Regions from separate parts of the Homo sapiens genome. Here region 2 is linked to region 1. Evidence: fine-mapped expression QTL. Tissue or cell type: whole blood. Region 1 holds a variant in brackets; the other region holds the start of a gene. All regions are shown on one strand. Distances are between the middles of the regions.

Region 1 (8,106 bases):
CGGGGAGGGATAGCATTAGGAGATATACCTAATGTAAATGACAAGTTAATGGGTGCAGCACACCAACATGGCACATGTGTACATATGTAACAAACCTGCACGTTGTGCACAGGTACCCTAGAACTTAAAGTATAATAATAAAAAATAAAATTGAGCTGCTTTGTCTTGACAGTACCAGGTGCATAGTAAGCCAAACAAGTCAAACCCAAATGCTTTTTAAGCACTTGTTATGTATTATGCCATGGCAGTTCCTCACTAGAGAGAGCTTATGCTCTCTCTTGTTTGTGATAGAAAAATTGGAAGCAACCTATGCCTATCAACAGAAAAAGTCATAACCTATCATATAGACAAGGAACCTTCAATAAATTCATGGAAAAAAATGTGTATTATGAAAAAACAATACATAGATTTTTTTTTTTTTTTTTTTTTGAGACAGAGTCTCTCTCTGTCACCCTGGCTGGAGTGCAGCAAAGAGAACTTGGCTCACTGCAAGCTCCACCTCCTGGGTTCAAGGTATTCTTGTGCCTCAGTCTACCCAGTAGCTGGGACTACAGGCACACGACACTGCACTCAGCTAATTTTTTGTATTTTTAGTAGCAATGGCCTCAAGTGATCCACCTGCCTCGGCCTCCAAAAGTGCTGAGATTACAGACATAAGCCATCGTGCCCAGCCTAAATTTCAAATTTTTTTGCACCAAAATAAACTCATACTAAGTTCTTATATCTGAACAGAATAGTTCAGAATCAGATATAAGAGGCACTAAGAAGTATAAGACATCAGTTTGGAAAGAGCCCCTATCATAGCAACATGAATTCAGAAAAAATTAAAGCAAGAGAAAACATCAAATTTGTGGTGAAGCTTGAGTAGAAAAATAATGAAATCATGGGAGCTTTATGAAAAGTTTATGGGGACAATGCCCTAAAGAAATCAGCAGTTTACAAATGGATAATTCATTTAAGAAAGAATAAAATGATGTTGAAGACGAAGGCCATAGCAGCAGACAATTTGCAAGGGAAAAATTCATCTTGTACATGCCCTAATTGAAGAGGACCAATTATTGATCGCAGAAAGAATAGCTGACACCATAAACATATCCATTGGTTCAGCTTACACAATTCTGACCGAAAAATTAAAGTTAAGCGAACTTTCCACTTAATGGGTGCCAACACTGTTTTGCCCAGCTCAGCCGCAGACAAGAGCAGAGTTTTCAATGGAAATTTTAAACATGTGAGACCAAGATTCTGAAGCATTTCTTCAAGGAATTGTAACAAGAGATGAAACATAGCTTTACCAGTACAATCCTGAAGACAAAGCACAATCAAAGAAATGGCTAGCAAATGATGGAAGGGGTCCGGTCATAGCAAAGAGAGACAGGTCAAGAGCAAAGGTCATGGCAACAGTTTGTGATGCTCAGGGCATTTTGCTTGTTGACTTTCTGGAGGGCAAAAAATGACAACATCTGCTTATTATAAGAGTGTTTTGAGAGTTAGCTAAAGCATTAGCAGAAAAACACCTGAGAAAGCTTCACTAGAGAGTCCTCCATCATGACAAATGCTTCTGCCCATTCCTCTTATTGAATAATGGCAATTTTGCAAGAGTTTCAGTAGAAAATCATTAGGCGTCCACCTTACAGTCCTGATTTGGCTCCTTCTGGCTTCTTTTTGTTTCCTAATCTTAAAAAATCTTTAAAGGGCACTCATTTTTCTTCAGTTAATAATGTGAAAAGACTGCACTAACATTGCTAAATTCCCAAGGCCCTCAGTTCTTTAGGGATGAACTAAATGGCTGCTATCATTGCTTACAAAAGTGTCTTGAACTTGATGGAGCTGTTTATTTCACCTGGGTGCAGGTGGGCTGAGTCCGAAAAGAGTCAGCGAAGGGAGATAGGGGTGGGGCCGTTTTATAAGATTTGGGCAGGTAAAGGAAAATTACAGTCAAAGGGGGTTTGTTCTCTGGTGGGCAGGAGTGGGGGTCACAAGGTGCTCAGTGGGGTAGCTTTTTGAGCCAGGATGAGCCAGGAAAAGGACTTTCACAAGGTAATGTCATCACTTAAGGCAAGGACCGGCCATTTACACTTGTTTTGTGGTGGAATATCATCAGTTAAGGTGGGGCAGGGCATATTCACTTCTTTTGTGATTCTTCAGTTACTTCAGGCCATCTGGGCATATACATGCAAGTCACAGGGGTTGCGATGGCTTGGCTTGGGCTCAGAGGCCTGACATTCCTGCCTTCTTATATTAATAAGAAAAATAAAATGGTGTTGAAGTGTTGGGGCGGCGAAAATTTTTGGGGGGTGGTATGGAGAGAGAGAATGGGCGATGTTTCTCAGGGCTGCTTCGAGCGGGATTAGGGGCTGCGTGGGAACCTAGAGTGGGAGAGATTAAGCTGAAGGAAGATTTTTGTGGTAAGGGGTGATATTGTGGGGATGTTAGAAGAAACATTTGTCGTGTAGAATTATTGGTGATGGCCTGGATACGGTTTTGTATGAATTGAAAAACTAAATGGAATAAGAGAAGGAGAAAAACAGGTATAAAAGGTCTAAGAATTGGCAGGACCTAGGACATCTGATTAGTGAGTGCCTAAGGAGATTCAGCATAGTCCTGCCAGCAAAAATTATTTATTTACTTCAAGAGTTTAGAGTGGCGGTTTGGGAATAGCACCAAGAGATATCAGCTGTGATGGCTTGGAGAAACAGTGTAAACTGGCAGTGTAAACAAGAGCAGGGCATGTATGAGTAGTTGAGAACGGTGAATAGGAGTATGATTAGACAGAAGATAGGGATGACAAGTTTTTTGGGGCACAGTCTAAGTTGGTCTGGTGTCTGGAAAGAGACTGGGGCCTAATAAAAAGGAGCGTCTATACGGGAGCTTAAATGGGCTGTACCTTGTAGCATTCCGAGGACAGGCCTGAATTCTGAGAAGCGAAAGTGGTAAAAGTATTGTTCAGTCCTTTTTAAGTTGCTGGCTGAGCTTGGTGAGGTGTGTTTTTAATAGACCGCTAGTCTGTCACTGAATACTAAGAGCCTGAAAAAATGCTTGGCTGATTTGACTAATAAAGGCTGGTCTGTTATCAGAATGTATAGAGGTGGGAAGGCTAAACTGAGGAATTATGTCTGACAGAAGGGAAGAAATGACTGCGGTGGCCTTCTCAGACCCTGTAGGAAAGGACTCTACCTATCCAGTGAAAGTGTCTACCTAGACTAAGAGGTAGTTTAGTTATCTGACTCGGGGCTTTGAGTAAAGCTAATTTGCCAGTCCTGGGTGGGGGCAAATCCTCGAGCTTGATGTGTAGGAAAGGGAGGGGGCCTGAATAATCCCTGATGAGTAGTAGAACAGCAGATGGAACACTGAGAAGTTATTTCCTTGAGGATAGATTTCCACAATGGAAAGGAAATGAGAGGTTCTTAAGAGGCAGGCTAGTGGCTTGTACTATAGCATAGCCTGCCTTTGCTGGTGTGTGGCGATTAGGCCTGGTGGAACTGCCATCAAAAAACTAAGTGTGATCAGGGTGAGGAACAGGAAAGAAGCAAATATGGGGAAATGGGATGAATGTCAGGTGGATCAGAGAGATACAGTCATGGGGGTCAGGTGTGGTATCAGGAATAATGTGGGAGGCCAGATTGAAGTCCTGGCCAGGAACAATAGTAATTGTGGGACTTAACAAAGAGTGAGTACAGCTGAAGGTGCCGGGGAGCAGAAAGTATATGTGTCAGGTATGAGGAAGAAAATCGATTTTGGAAGTTATGAGAAATGTAGAGAGTGAGTTGAGCATAGTTTGTGATTTTGAGGGCCTCTAAAAGTATTAAAGCAGCGGCAGCCGCTGCACGCGGACATGAGGGCTAGGCTAAAACAGTAAGGTCAAGTTGTTTGGACAGAAAGGCTGCAGGATGTGGTCCTGGCTCTTGTGTAAGAATTCTGACCGCGCTAACCATG[C/A]CTAGGAAGGAAAGGAGTTGTTGTTTTGTAGAAGGTGCTGGGGTTTGAGAGATTAGTCGGACACGATCGGCAGGGAGAGCACGTGTGTTTTTATGAAGAATTATGCCGAGGTAGGTAACCGATGGAGAAGAAATTTGAGCTTTGGAGGGGGATACTCGATATCCTTTGGAGAATAAATGCTGAAGGAGCAGAGGTGTGTCTTGTTGAGAAGATTCAAAGGAGGGGCTACAAAGAAGAAGATCATCAATATATTGAATAAGGTGAGAAGCAGAGGGGTGGAAAGAAAGTAAATCATGAGAAAGAGCTTGGCTGAAGTAATGAGAGCTGTCCCTGAAACCTTGTGGCAGCACAGCCCAGGTAAGCTGCTGGGACTGATGGGTGTCAGCGTCAGTCCAGGTGAAAGCAGAGAGAGGCTGGGACGAGGGGTGCAGGGGAATAGTGAAAAAAGCATCTTTAAGATCAAGAACGGAATAGTGAGTTGTGGAGGAAGGTATTGAGGACGAAAGGGTGTACCGGTTGGGCACCACAGGGCGGATAGGCAAAACAATTTGGTTGATAAGGCGCAGATCCTGAACTAATCTGTAAGACTTGTGCGGTTTTTGGACAGGTAAAATGGGGGAATTGTAAGGAGAGTTTATAGGTTTTAGAAGCCCATGCTGTAGCAGGCGAGTGATAACAGGCTTTAATCCCTTTAAAGCGTGCTGTGGGATGGGACATTGGCGTTGAGAGGGGTAAGGGTGATTAGGTTTTAATGGGATGGTGATGGGCATGTGATCGGTTGCCAGGGAAGGAGTAGAGATGTTCCATACTTGTGGGTTAAGGTGGGGGGATATGAGAGGAAGACGCAAAGGAGGCTTTGGGTTGGGGAGAAGGGCGGCAATGAGATGCGGCTGTAATCCAGGAATAGTCAGGGAAGCAGATAATTTAAAGTGTCTCGGCCTAATAAGGGAACGGGGCAGGTGGGGATAACTAAAAAGGAGTGCTTAAAAGGGTATTGTCTAAGTTGGCACCAGAGTTGGGGAGTTTTAAGAGGTTTAGAAGCCTGGCTGTCAATACCCACAACAGTTATGGAGGCAAGGGAAATAGACCCTTGAAAAGAAGGTAATGTGGAGTGGGTAGCCTCGTATTGATAAGAAGGGGATGGACTTACCCTCCGCTGTGAGAGTTACCTAAAGCTCGGCGTCCGTGATGGTCTGCGGGGCTTCTGAGGCGATCGGGCAGCATCAGTCTTCAGCCGCTAAGCCAAGAAGGAGTCAGTCAGAGAGCCTCGGGCCAGAGTTCCAGGGGCTCTGGGAGTGGCTGCCAGGTGAGTTGAACAGTCCGATTTCCAGTGGGGTCCCGCACAGATGGGACACGGCTTAGGAGGAATCCTGGGCTGCGGGCATTCCTTGGCCTGGTGGTCAGATTTCTGGCACTTGAAGCAAGCTCCTGGGGGAGGAGGTTCTGGAGGAACGCCTGGCTGCTGCGGTTCAGGTGTTTGGAAGTTCTTGTGTGCTGGAGATGTGGCTGGGATTTGTCTCAGAGTGGAGGCAAGGAATTGCAACTTTTTTCTATTATTGTACACCTGGAAGGCGAGGTTAATTAAATCCTGTTGTGGGGTTTGAGGGCCGGAATTTAATTTTTGGAGTTTTATTTAATGTCAGGAGCAGATTGGGTAATAAAATGTATATTGAGAATAAGACGGCCTTTTGACCTTTTAGGGTCTAGGGCTGTAAAGCGTCTCAGGGTTGCTGCCGAACGAACCATGAACTGGGCTGGGTTTTTTATATTTGATGAAAAAGAGCCTAAACGCTATCTGATTTGGGGTAAAGAAAAAGGAGCATTAACCTTGACTATGCCTTCAGCTCCAGCCACCTTTTTAAGAGTAAATTGCTGGGCAGGTGGGGGAGGGCTAGTCACGGAATGAAACCATAAGCCGGACCAGGTGTGAGGAGGGGAGGTGATAAAAGGAGCGGACCAGGGTGGAGGAGCGGAGGCTGAGGAAGAATTGGGACCTAGCTCGGCCTGGTGAGGAGGGGAGAGGTCAGATGGGTCTGTAGAAAAGGAAGATTAGAAAGACTCAGCGACGCTTGGGGTTGGGACTGAGGGGACAGGCGGGAGGGAAAGAAGGAAGATTTGGGATGAGTTGCATTGGGAACAGAGACTAGAGAGGGACCGATGCGTAAAAGAATGCCTGGACGTCAGGCACCTCAGACCATTTGCCCATTTTATGACAAGAATTATTTAGATCTTGTAGGGTGGAAAAATTGAAAGTGCCGTTTTCTGGCTATTTGGAACTACTGTCGAGTATGTATTGGGGTCAAGCGGCATTGCAGAAGAAAATCAGAGAAATGCAAATCAAAACCACAATGAGATACCATCTCACACCAGTTAGAATGGCGATCATTAAAAAGTCAGGAAACAACAGGTGCTGGAGAGGATGTGGAGAAATAGGAACACTTTTACACTGTTGGTGGGACTGTAAACTAGTTCAACCGTTGTGGAAGTCAGTGTGGCGATTCCTCAGGGATCTAGAACTAGAAATACCATTTGACCCAGCCATCCCGTTACTGGGTATATACCCAAAGGATTATAAATCATGCTGCTATAAAGACACATGCACACGTATGTTTATTACGGCACTATTCACAATAGCAAAGACTTGGAACCAACCCAAATGTCCAACAATGATAGACTGGATTAAGAAAATGTGGCACATATACACTATGGAATACTATGCAGCCATAAAAAAGGATGAGTTCATGTCCTTTGTAGGGACATGGATGAAACTGGAAACCATCATTCTCAGCAAACTATCACAAGGACAAAAAACCAAACACCGCATGTTCTCACTCATAGGTGGGAATTGAACAATGAGAACACATGGACACAGGAAGGGGAACATCACGCACCGGGGACTGTTGTGGGGTGGGGGTAGTGGGGAGGGATAGCATTAGGAGATATACCTAATGCTAAATGACGAGTTAATGGGTGCAGCACACCAACATGGCACATGTATACATATGTAACTAACCTGCACATTGTGCACATGTACCCTAAAACTTAAAGTATAATAAAAAAAAAAAAAGTTTACATTTTGTATTTTTATCTCTTAATTCCATTTTTTTTCCAGGAACATTTTGAAGTCCCCTCATATACAATGAAATGATAGATTTGTCAACACAGATAAATCTCAAAAACACAATAAGTGAAGAAAGTAAGTTGCAGATGGAAATAATATGTGATGGTCAAACAATCTAGATGTTTCCGTGAAGGTGTTTTTGGATGAGACTAACATTGACATTGGTGGACTTTGAGTAAAGCAGGTTGCCTGCGTGCCATAATGTGGGTATTCTCATCCAATCAGTTGCGGGATTTAACAGAGCAAAGACTGAGGTCCCCTGAGAAAATAGGATTCCACCAGCAGACAGCCTTCAGCCTTGAACTGCAGTGTCACCTCTTCACTGGGCCTCCCAACCTGCTGACACTTTGATCTTGGACTTCTAGCCTCCATAACTGTGTGAGCCAATTCCCTAAAATAAATCTCTCTCTGTACACATTCTATGGTTATGTTTCCCTGGAGAACCCTGACTAATACACAGTATAACACAATTTAACATAAAGTTTAAAATAATGCAAAATAGTCCTAGGAAAGGTTTTATACATATGTAGTAAAACTTTCATGGGAGTGGTAAGCACCAAATTTAGGGCAGCAGTGACCTCTGGGGGGGTGGGGGTGGAATTCAATCAGGACAGAGTACAAGGGGAGTTTCAATTATATCTAAAATCTTTGATTTCAGGTTTTAAAAAAAGGTTTTTTAACAAATAACACTGAGTTGACAATGCTGAGTATTAGGTGGCTTTTTATGTGTTAAAAATATTTCATAATTAAGAACAGAATGAGATCGATCGCATAAATAAAATCAACTTGGAAAAGAAAACTAGCACAGTGGCTGATACATCTTGGGACCCTGACAGACACAGGGAGAGACTGGCTGGGACAAGTTTGATGGAGAAGGCAGGTCAGAGCGAGGGCAGGCGGTATGGAAGTGTGGCCTTAGGGAACAGTGGGCGGGGTGACTGCAGAGGTCATGTGGACGCAGTCCCAGTCACCCAGGTGGCTCTCCAACAGGCCCTGCGTGTTTACCCGAAGGTGGCCCTGCACAGACAGTTATCCCCGACTTTCCTCTGACA
Region 2 (8,106 bases), 59 kb before region 1:
TGCCCGGCCAGAACATTTTTTCTTATAGAAGAAAGCCAACTAAAAAATGTAGAAGAAATGATGGAATTTGAAAATCACCATTTGGCAACCATAATAAGTAATAATTGACGTGGGCAGGAATCATCAATTGATGCTAAAACTAAAACTTCTGGGACAGAAAGTTTGAGGAATAACAATATTTACTCAAAATAGACTAAAAATATTTTTCCACAAGATACTTACTAATTACAAATGGAAAAACAGTAACTTTACAGTGGAGAAGCTTGGCACACGCCACCTGAACCCAGTAAACAAAATTAATATCACCAGGAGAGGGACATATTGATATCACATGCCTCCTGGTGAGTTTTATGGTATTCCAACTGAAAGTGTGCAACTTGAATCTAACCTGAGGAAATACCAGAACTCAAGTTGAGGAGTATTTTGTAAAATAACTGCCCTGTTGAGACGGATTGAACTGTGACTCCAAAAAAAGATATGTTGAAGTTTGAATCCCCACTATGTCAGAACGTGACCTGATTTGGAAATAAGAGTTGTTGCAGATGTAATTAATTAAGATGAGGTCCTACTAGAGGAGAATGGGCCTTTAATCCAATATGACAGGTATCCTTATTAGAAGAGAAGAAAAGCCACAGAGACACAGACACGCAAAGGGAGAACAACACGTGAAGACAGAGGCAGGGGCTGCAGGGCTGCAGCTGCAAACCAAGGCACACCAGGGGCTGCCGGCAACCACTGGAAGCTGGGAATATGCAAGAAAAGATTCCCCCTACAGGTTTCTGGGGGGAGCACAGCCCCGCTGACACCTTGATTTTGGACTTCTAGCTATCAGAGCAGTGGGAAAATAACTTTGTGCTGTTTAAAGCCATCCGGTTTGTAATCATTTGTTATGGCCGGCCTAGGAAACTAATACATTTGTGTTTGTCAGAATGCCAATGTCATGAAATGCAGATGGAAAGGCTGAGGACTTCTTCAGATTCAAGTAGACTAAAGAGACATAACAACTGAATGTTACTTGTGATCTAAAATGTTCTTTTGTTCTAAAGGACATTATTGAGACATCTGGCAACATCTGAATAGAATATTCAGACTGGATAATAATATTATCACCAATGCTAATTTCTTGATTTTTTTTTAAACTTTTTATTTTTAGAGATAGGGTCTTTGTCACCACACAGTAATAGTGAGAGACTATTATATTGGGAGTGTCTTTTCTTCGCTTCTAATAAGGAGTTCTGTCGTGTCTATTAGGTCCATTTGGTTTTGTTGAGTTCAGGTCCTGAACATCTTTACCAGTTTTCTGCCTTGATGATCCGTCTAATACTGTCAGTGGGGTGTTGAAGTCTCCCACTATTATTGTGTGGTTATCTGAATTTCTTCTTAGGTCTCCAAGAACTTGTTTTATGAATCTGGGTGCTCCTGTGTTGGGTGGATATGTATTTACGATAGTTAGGTTTTCTTGTTGAATTGAAACCTTTACCATTATAGAATATTAATTATATAAGGGTAACAAATTTTCTTAGTATTTACTTATCTGAAAAGGATCTTGTTTTTCCTTCACTTATGAGGCTCAGTTGGCTGAATATGAAATTCTTGGTTGGAATTTCTTTTTTATTTTATTTATTTATTTTCTTTGAGATGGGGTCTCACTCTGTCATTCAGGCTGGAGTGCGATGGCGCCATCTTGGCTCACAGCAACCTCCATCTCGGGTTCAAGTGATTCTCCTGACTCAGCCTCCCAAGTAGCTGGGATTACAGGTGCCCACCACCATGCCTGGCTAATTTTTGTATTTTTAGTAGAGATGGAGTTTTACTGTGTCGGTCAGGTGGTCTCAAACTCCTGACCTCAGGTGATCCACCTGCCTCGGCCTCCCAAAGTGCTGGGATTACAGGTGTGAGTCACTGCACCTGGCCGGAATTTCTTTAAAAAAAAAAATGCTGAATATAGGCCCCCCCCATCTTTTCTGGTTGTATAGTTTCTACTGAAAGGCCTGCTGTTAGCCTAATGGTGTTTCCTTTGTAGGTGACCTGCTGTTTCTCTCTAGCTGCCTTTAAAACTTTTTCTTTATTTCGACCTTACAGAATCTGATGACTATGTGTCTTGGGGATAGTGATCTTTTATAGCGTCTGGCAGGGGTTCTCTGCATTTCCTGCCTTTGAATGTTGGCCTCTAGCAAGGTTGGGGAAATATTCACCGGCAATATCCTCAAATATGTTTTCCAAGTAGCTTGCTTTCTCTCCTTCTCTTTCAGGGATGCCAGTGAACTGTAGATCTGGTCTCTTTACATAACCTGTATTTCTCGGAGGTTTTATTCATACTTTTAAATTCTTTTTTTCTTTATTTTTGTCTGACTGAGTTATTTTGGAGAACGGTCTTCAAGCTCTGAGAGTGTTTCCTCAGTTTGGTCTATTCTACTATTAATACTTGAGATTGTATTACTAAATTCTTGAAGTGAGTTTTTTAGGTCTATCGGATCAGTTTATTTTTTTCTTAAAATAGCCATTTCATCCTTCATCTCCTGTAGCATCTTATTGATTCCTTGGATGGGGTTGCAACTTTCTCCTGAATCTCAATGATCTTCATTCCTATCCATTTTCTGAATTCTATGTCTGTCATTTCAGCCATTTCAGGCTGGCTAGGGACGATTGCTAGAGAATTAGTGTGGTGGTTTGGAGGTAAGAAGACACTCTGGTTTTTGAGTTGCCAGAGTTCTCACACTAGTTCTTTCTCATCTGTGTGGGCTGATGTTCCTTCAATTTTTGAAGTTGATGTGCTTTGGAGAGGTTTTCTGCTTTTATCTTCTTTGATGATCTTGGTTTGATTGTGGTATATGGTGGGTTTGGTTGACTTGCTTCATTTCTGGAAGATTTTAGGGGGCCCAGACTCAGCTCAGCACTCCTGGGCTGCGTGCTCTAACTCTGGGAGGGCTGGTGCTGGGCGCCTGGCTGTGCTATCTGAACCCTCAAGGTTAGGAATCTATTCTGCTGGAGGGGCTGAGTTGTTCCCAGTCTGCTGGCCACAGCACTGTGATGGAAGATGCTAGCCAAAGCACTTGGTCAGGGTGGTGTCAGTGAGATCTGTGCTTACTGATGTATGGCAGCAGCTGCAGCAGCATGGCGGGGTGCACACGTGTTAGCTGGGGAGGGGTTCCAGCAGAAATGGGGAGGCGGTGTTCCTGCATGTGCTCATGCCAGTGGTGGTGGTGGTGCATTGGTAGGGGGGAAAATGGGGGCTGGGGCACTGGCAGCCGTGGGGTTGCTGGTGTTGCACTTGTACTGGCGGTGGTGGCAGCTGGGGTGGGGTGCTGGTGGAGGTGAGGTTGCCAGCATTCATGAGCATGTTATAAAATTTTTAAATTTTTGTCTCAATTTTTTTTAAGTCACAAACATTTTTATTGGAAAGCAATGAGCTGCAGCAAAGTGACACTCAGTGCATGCAGCCAAATGGGTGAGGTGGGGGTACAGGTGGGTGCCAAGAGCTGACCCAAGACTAGAGCTCATGACCTCTGGGGCCTCTGGCTATAAGCCCTTTGGGCTGGAGTGTGCAGGCCCAGCAGAAATACAAAAATAAACTCTGTGGTCTAGCTGTCCCTGCCTGTGGTAGTTCGTTTGGGCAAGGTGGTTACTCTTTGCAGCAGGTCCTGTGCTGTCTAGTCCAGCCACAGCGTGGGCAGCAGAAGCCTATGGGGTTGAGTGGACACCTACAGGCTGGAGCCAAAGGGCCAGGCAGGTGTGGCCTTGGGCAGTGCTGAGACTCTGACAGCACCAGGGTCTGGCCTGCAGCTGGGGAGGCCTCAGGGCCTCTCAGGTGGGCAGGTCCAGGCATTGGTTGAAGCTGGATGAAGCTGGGGCCTGTGCTACTCCTCATCACATACAAATCACTGGGAACCTGTCCTCCTTGGTCTGGTCTCTTCGGCCCCACCCTCACTGCCTCCACCTCTGCTTCCTTTCTCTTCCTCCTCTTCCCCCAGTTCCAGGTCCATCTCGTTGCCTGCCTCTGAGGGTGTGCAGGTGGAGCTGCTAATGGAGCGGTGGCTGAAGAAAACAATTTGCTTGAGCCCTTTGTTGTAGAAGAAGTAGTTGAAGGACCAGAGGGTATCTTCTTCTCTGAAGGCATCTGGGTCCATGTCTGGGTTATAGCTGTGGGTGTCTCATTAAGCCAGGTGGATCTCCTCATCCACTGTGTTCCACAGCTGTGTTCTAGGACCTTGATGTCCCCCCACGCAGCTGAGAACAGACTGCGGTTGACTGCATTCACCACCCACCTGAGGCTGGGCTTCCGGCTGAACCCATGGCTGCGGGCTGTGCTGAGGTCATAGTCAGGCCTGAAAGGACTCGCTGAGCATGACAATCAAGTGGAAGAGGGTCTTGCAATTGCACTTGTCCCTGAGGGGGGCCCTTGTCCTTGCCACCTTGGTTCTTGCTCAGGCTGCTGGGGCTGAGGCCTGAGGTCTGGGATGGGGAGAGAGCCTTCAGTATGTGGGCCGCCCTCCTGTCAGAACAGTGTTTGTCGTCTCCTGCTATCTTACGTGAGTAGCTCTCAATCCTGCTGATAATGTGGGTATCTTTGCTCTCTACAGTTAGCTGTGAGTTGATGGCTTCAAAGCCCAGTTCTCCAATAGCTTCCTGTCTCAGGGAGGGAGCTCCATGCTTGAGAGGGGCCATTGCTGCCTGCCTGGTGGGGCTAAATCAGGCCTGGCTGGGTCATCGGCACCGGTGCATAGGCAGGGCAGGCTCCGCACAGTGTGGGCTCCTCAGCACCAGAGGGTGGCACCGTGGCATCCACCTGGGCCACACTGTATCTGGGGGAAGAAACTCCATGGCAATGTTTCATTATACCTGGCCCTGCTGGCTCATCCAGGTGGTCACTATGACACATCCTTACCACACTGCACATTGCCTGCTTTAGCCACCAACATGCCACCAACCACCACAGATCACCTTGGTCAGCCAGCAACCTCCACCTCCCCCACCAGTCAATGTCTATCAGTCAAAATTCCTAGAACTAAATAAGTATAAAAGAAACTTAACTACTTCAACTTAAAAATAATTTGCTTCTGTCTGCCTATGAAAATGTTAATATTTGTGAAATCTGAGTGAAGGGTATATGGCAATTCTTCAACTATTCTTTCAACTGCTCTGTAAGCCTGAAATTATGTTAAAATAAAAATTCAAAAACAAAAGCCAAAAACCTTGTACCCTTAAGGGTTACTTGAGTTAGTGGTTCACAGCAACAGATACTCAAATCTGGTTTGTGTTACTTCTGAAAATTAAGCTTCATATCTTTTTCTTCATGGCTCTTTCTGGTGTAAAGTACAACTTGAATCTCATGTTAGAAGGTCTATCCCAACAAAGCCCAGACCACTGGACTCTAGAGGCTTCACGCATGTGGCAGACTCCTGAATATTGTCAGGCTTTATCTCCCATTTTCTGGCATTGCAGGTACTTTACTAAGGCATTTAGGTGCTAGCTCTTTGGGGCTCTCCAGGTCCAATTAGCATGATAAAGATATGTAATGGATCAGCTTGGGCTTCTGGGTCCCTCCAGATTGCATTCTGACTAAGTGCAGGCAAGCCGACATAGCCCGGAGGCAGGACAGTAAAAGTATACTGCTGTCCCTGCCACAACAGGGCAGAAGAGGATTAAGGTGGGGGTGGGCAGGATAAAGCATTTGCCAGGTCAATAGTGGCCCAGGTGCCAGGGACTGTGTGGATTTGCTCCAGTAAAAATACCGTCTCTGCAATTCTGGTTGTGATTCACCTCACCACTGGATTAGTCCGTGATGATCTGTGGTCATTTTCTATGACCTACTTGATTTGTACACTGATCAAACAAGTGAGTTAATTGTGGATTTGGTAGGAATCACTACCTTGTATCTTTCAAGTCTTTGGTGGTGGCATTAAGCTCATGTGAGGAGCAGAAAAAAAGTTTGTGAGAAGGCTGGCACACTGTAGGAGCTTGATAAATGATAGCTATCATCATTGTTGTTGTCATGTGTTATTGTCTTAGCCAAGTCAGGGTCAAAATTTACATTATCTTTTTTCTTTTTGAAATATCATATTTCATTGCTCCTAAGAAGCATACTGTTGTGTACTTTAACATCTCTGAAGTCAGGATATGATAATAGTTGATGGTATGTTGTGATTGCTGTTGTTTCGATTAAAATTGTGTTCATTTGTAGAGGATTTTTCTTTGCTTCTGCCTGTCACTTGGGGCACAGGCTGAGTTACCAATGAGAGTAAAGCTTCAGGACACCTCATTTGCATGGCCCTTCCAAGGTCCTGAAAGGGTTCCACCTCACAGCTTCATGGGATCAAATTACATATTTTTTTTCTGAGACAGTCTCAATCTGTTGCCCAGGTTGGAGTGCAGTGTTGCTATCTCAGCTCACTGCAAACTCTGCCTCCCAAGTTGAAGTGATTCCCATGCTTCAGACTCCAGAGTAGCTGAGGCACGTGCCACCACACCCAGCTAATTTTCTTTGTATTTTTAGTAGAGAGATGCAGTTTTGCCATGTTGGCCAGGATGGTCTCAAATTCCTGGCCTCAAGTGATCTGCCTGTCTCAGCCTCCCAAAGCGCTGGGATCACAGATGTGAACCACCACACTCAGCCTCATCATAGGTTTTTATAAAATTTGCAAGAGTAAGATATTTTGTATTTCTTTTTTAAAAGAGGGCATCAAATTATATAAGCTTTGGGTTCTACCCTTGCCAAGGAACTCATAATAATGTGAAACTACAGGTGGTCCCTAACTTTACGATGTTTCAGCTTATGATTTTCCAACTTTGTGATAGTGTGAAAACAATATGCATTCAGTGTGCTTCTCAACTTACAACTGGATAAAGTTGACTTATGATATAGTCACCTTATGATGGTTTATCAGGACATAACATCATCATAAGTTGAGGTGCATTTGTACATTAAATTCTCTGAGGTTTTTTTGATGGCACAAGTAGTACCAGAAAACTGCATGAGAACCAACTTTTGATTCAAATTATACGGGCAGATTTTACTTCCTCCATCCATGGCAAAATTGAAACATGCAACTTCTCTTGCTGTCCTACTATGCATGTCCCTTTCTTTCTCTTTTTTCTGTATATTTCTCATGGACCCCCTCCACAGAGGCCTTTAGTGTCTCAGCTTTATCTGGGGTCTAATAGACTTCTATCTGGAGTAGTTTCATTTTTAGTGGCACATCCAGTAATGGTATCTCTATTAATCAATGATGCCTTAGGTTCCATGAACATAGTACATAATAGGGTACTCAAGATGGGTCCCCCTGAGACCAGCAGGCTGGCCTGTGGAGTTTGGACAACACTGCCCCCTAGAGGTCTGTCTTGTAACCTGAGAAGATTAGCCCCCTAACAATTACTGACAGGGAGTTTCTTAAAAATCAGGAAGGATGCTCACTTTTATTTATTATTTATTTTTTATTATTATTATTTTTGAGACAGAGTCTTGCTCTGTTCCCCAGGCTGGAGTGCAGTGGTGCAGTCTCAGCTCACTGCAACCTCCACCTCCAGGGTTCAAGCAATTCTCCTGCCTCAGCCTCCTGTGTAGCTGGGATGACAGGCGCCTGCCACTACACCTGGCTAATTTTTAGATTTTAAGTAGAGACGGGGTTTTACCATGTTGGCCAGGCTGTTCTCGAACTCCTGACCTTGTGATCCACCAGTCTCGACCTCCCAAAGTGCTGGGATTACAGGCGTGAGCCACCGTGTCTGGCCTTATTTATATTTTTAAAAACAGGATCTCGATCTGTCACCCAGGCTGGAGTGTAATGGCATGATCATGGCTCCCTACAGTCCCCACTTCCTGGGCTCAAGCAATCTCTCCCACCTCAACCTTCCAAGTGATGGCAGTGGCAGCTTATCTGGAGCAGCTGCTGCAAAGACGCTGGCTGCAGTAGGGGAGGCACACCAGGGCTGTGTACTCCAGGAAGCTGGCAAGAGCCGGTGGAAGCTGGCAGGAGCCGGTGGAAGCTGGGAACAGGAGGAAGCCAGGACTCATTCCTGGTTGGAGAGACAGGAGCCCCACCCTCCCAGGTGCAGCTGCAACTGCCCAGCTGCCCTGCAGACCTAGGCATTCCTGCACTCTCGGGGGCC

What was found. PIP is the estimated chance that this variant, and not a neighbour inherited with it, causes the effect.
Region 2: BFSP2-AS1 starts here. The variant in region 1 is fine-mapped to the expression of BFSP2-AS1 in whole blood (TOPMed, PIP above 0.99).

The regions. Positions count from the first base shown.
Region 1 is chr3:133,428,649-133,436,754 of GRCh38, reverse strand. All of the region lies in intron 1 of BFSP2 (beaded filament structural protein 2), which reads right to left. The region is part of intron 3 of BFSP2-AS1 (BFSP2 antisense RNA 1); the gene reads left to right. Among named protein-coding and RNA genes, the nearest start is that of BFSP2, 33 kb to the right of the region's middle. The variant C/A (reference allele first, on the strand shown) is at 3,934.
Region 2 is chr3:133,487,325-133,495,430 of GRCh38, reverse strand. BFSP2-AS1 (BFSP2 antisense RNA 1) reads left to right here and starts at 4,322. Exons shown (of 4, transcript NR_189064.1): 1 at 4,322-4,529. It also overlaps the pseudogene MAF1P1. RefSeq lists enhancers at 6,201-6,330, 6,351-6,400, 7,552-8,052.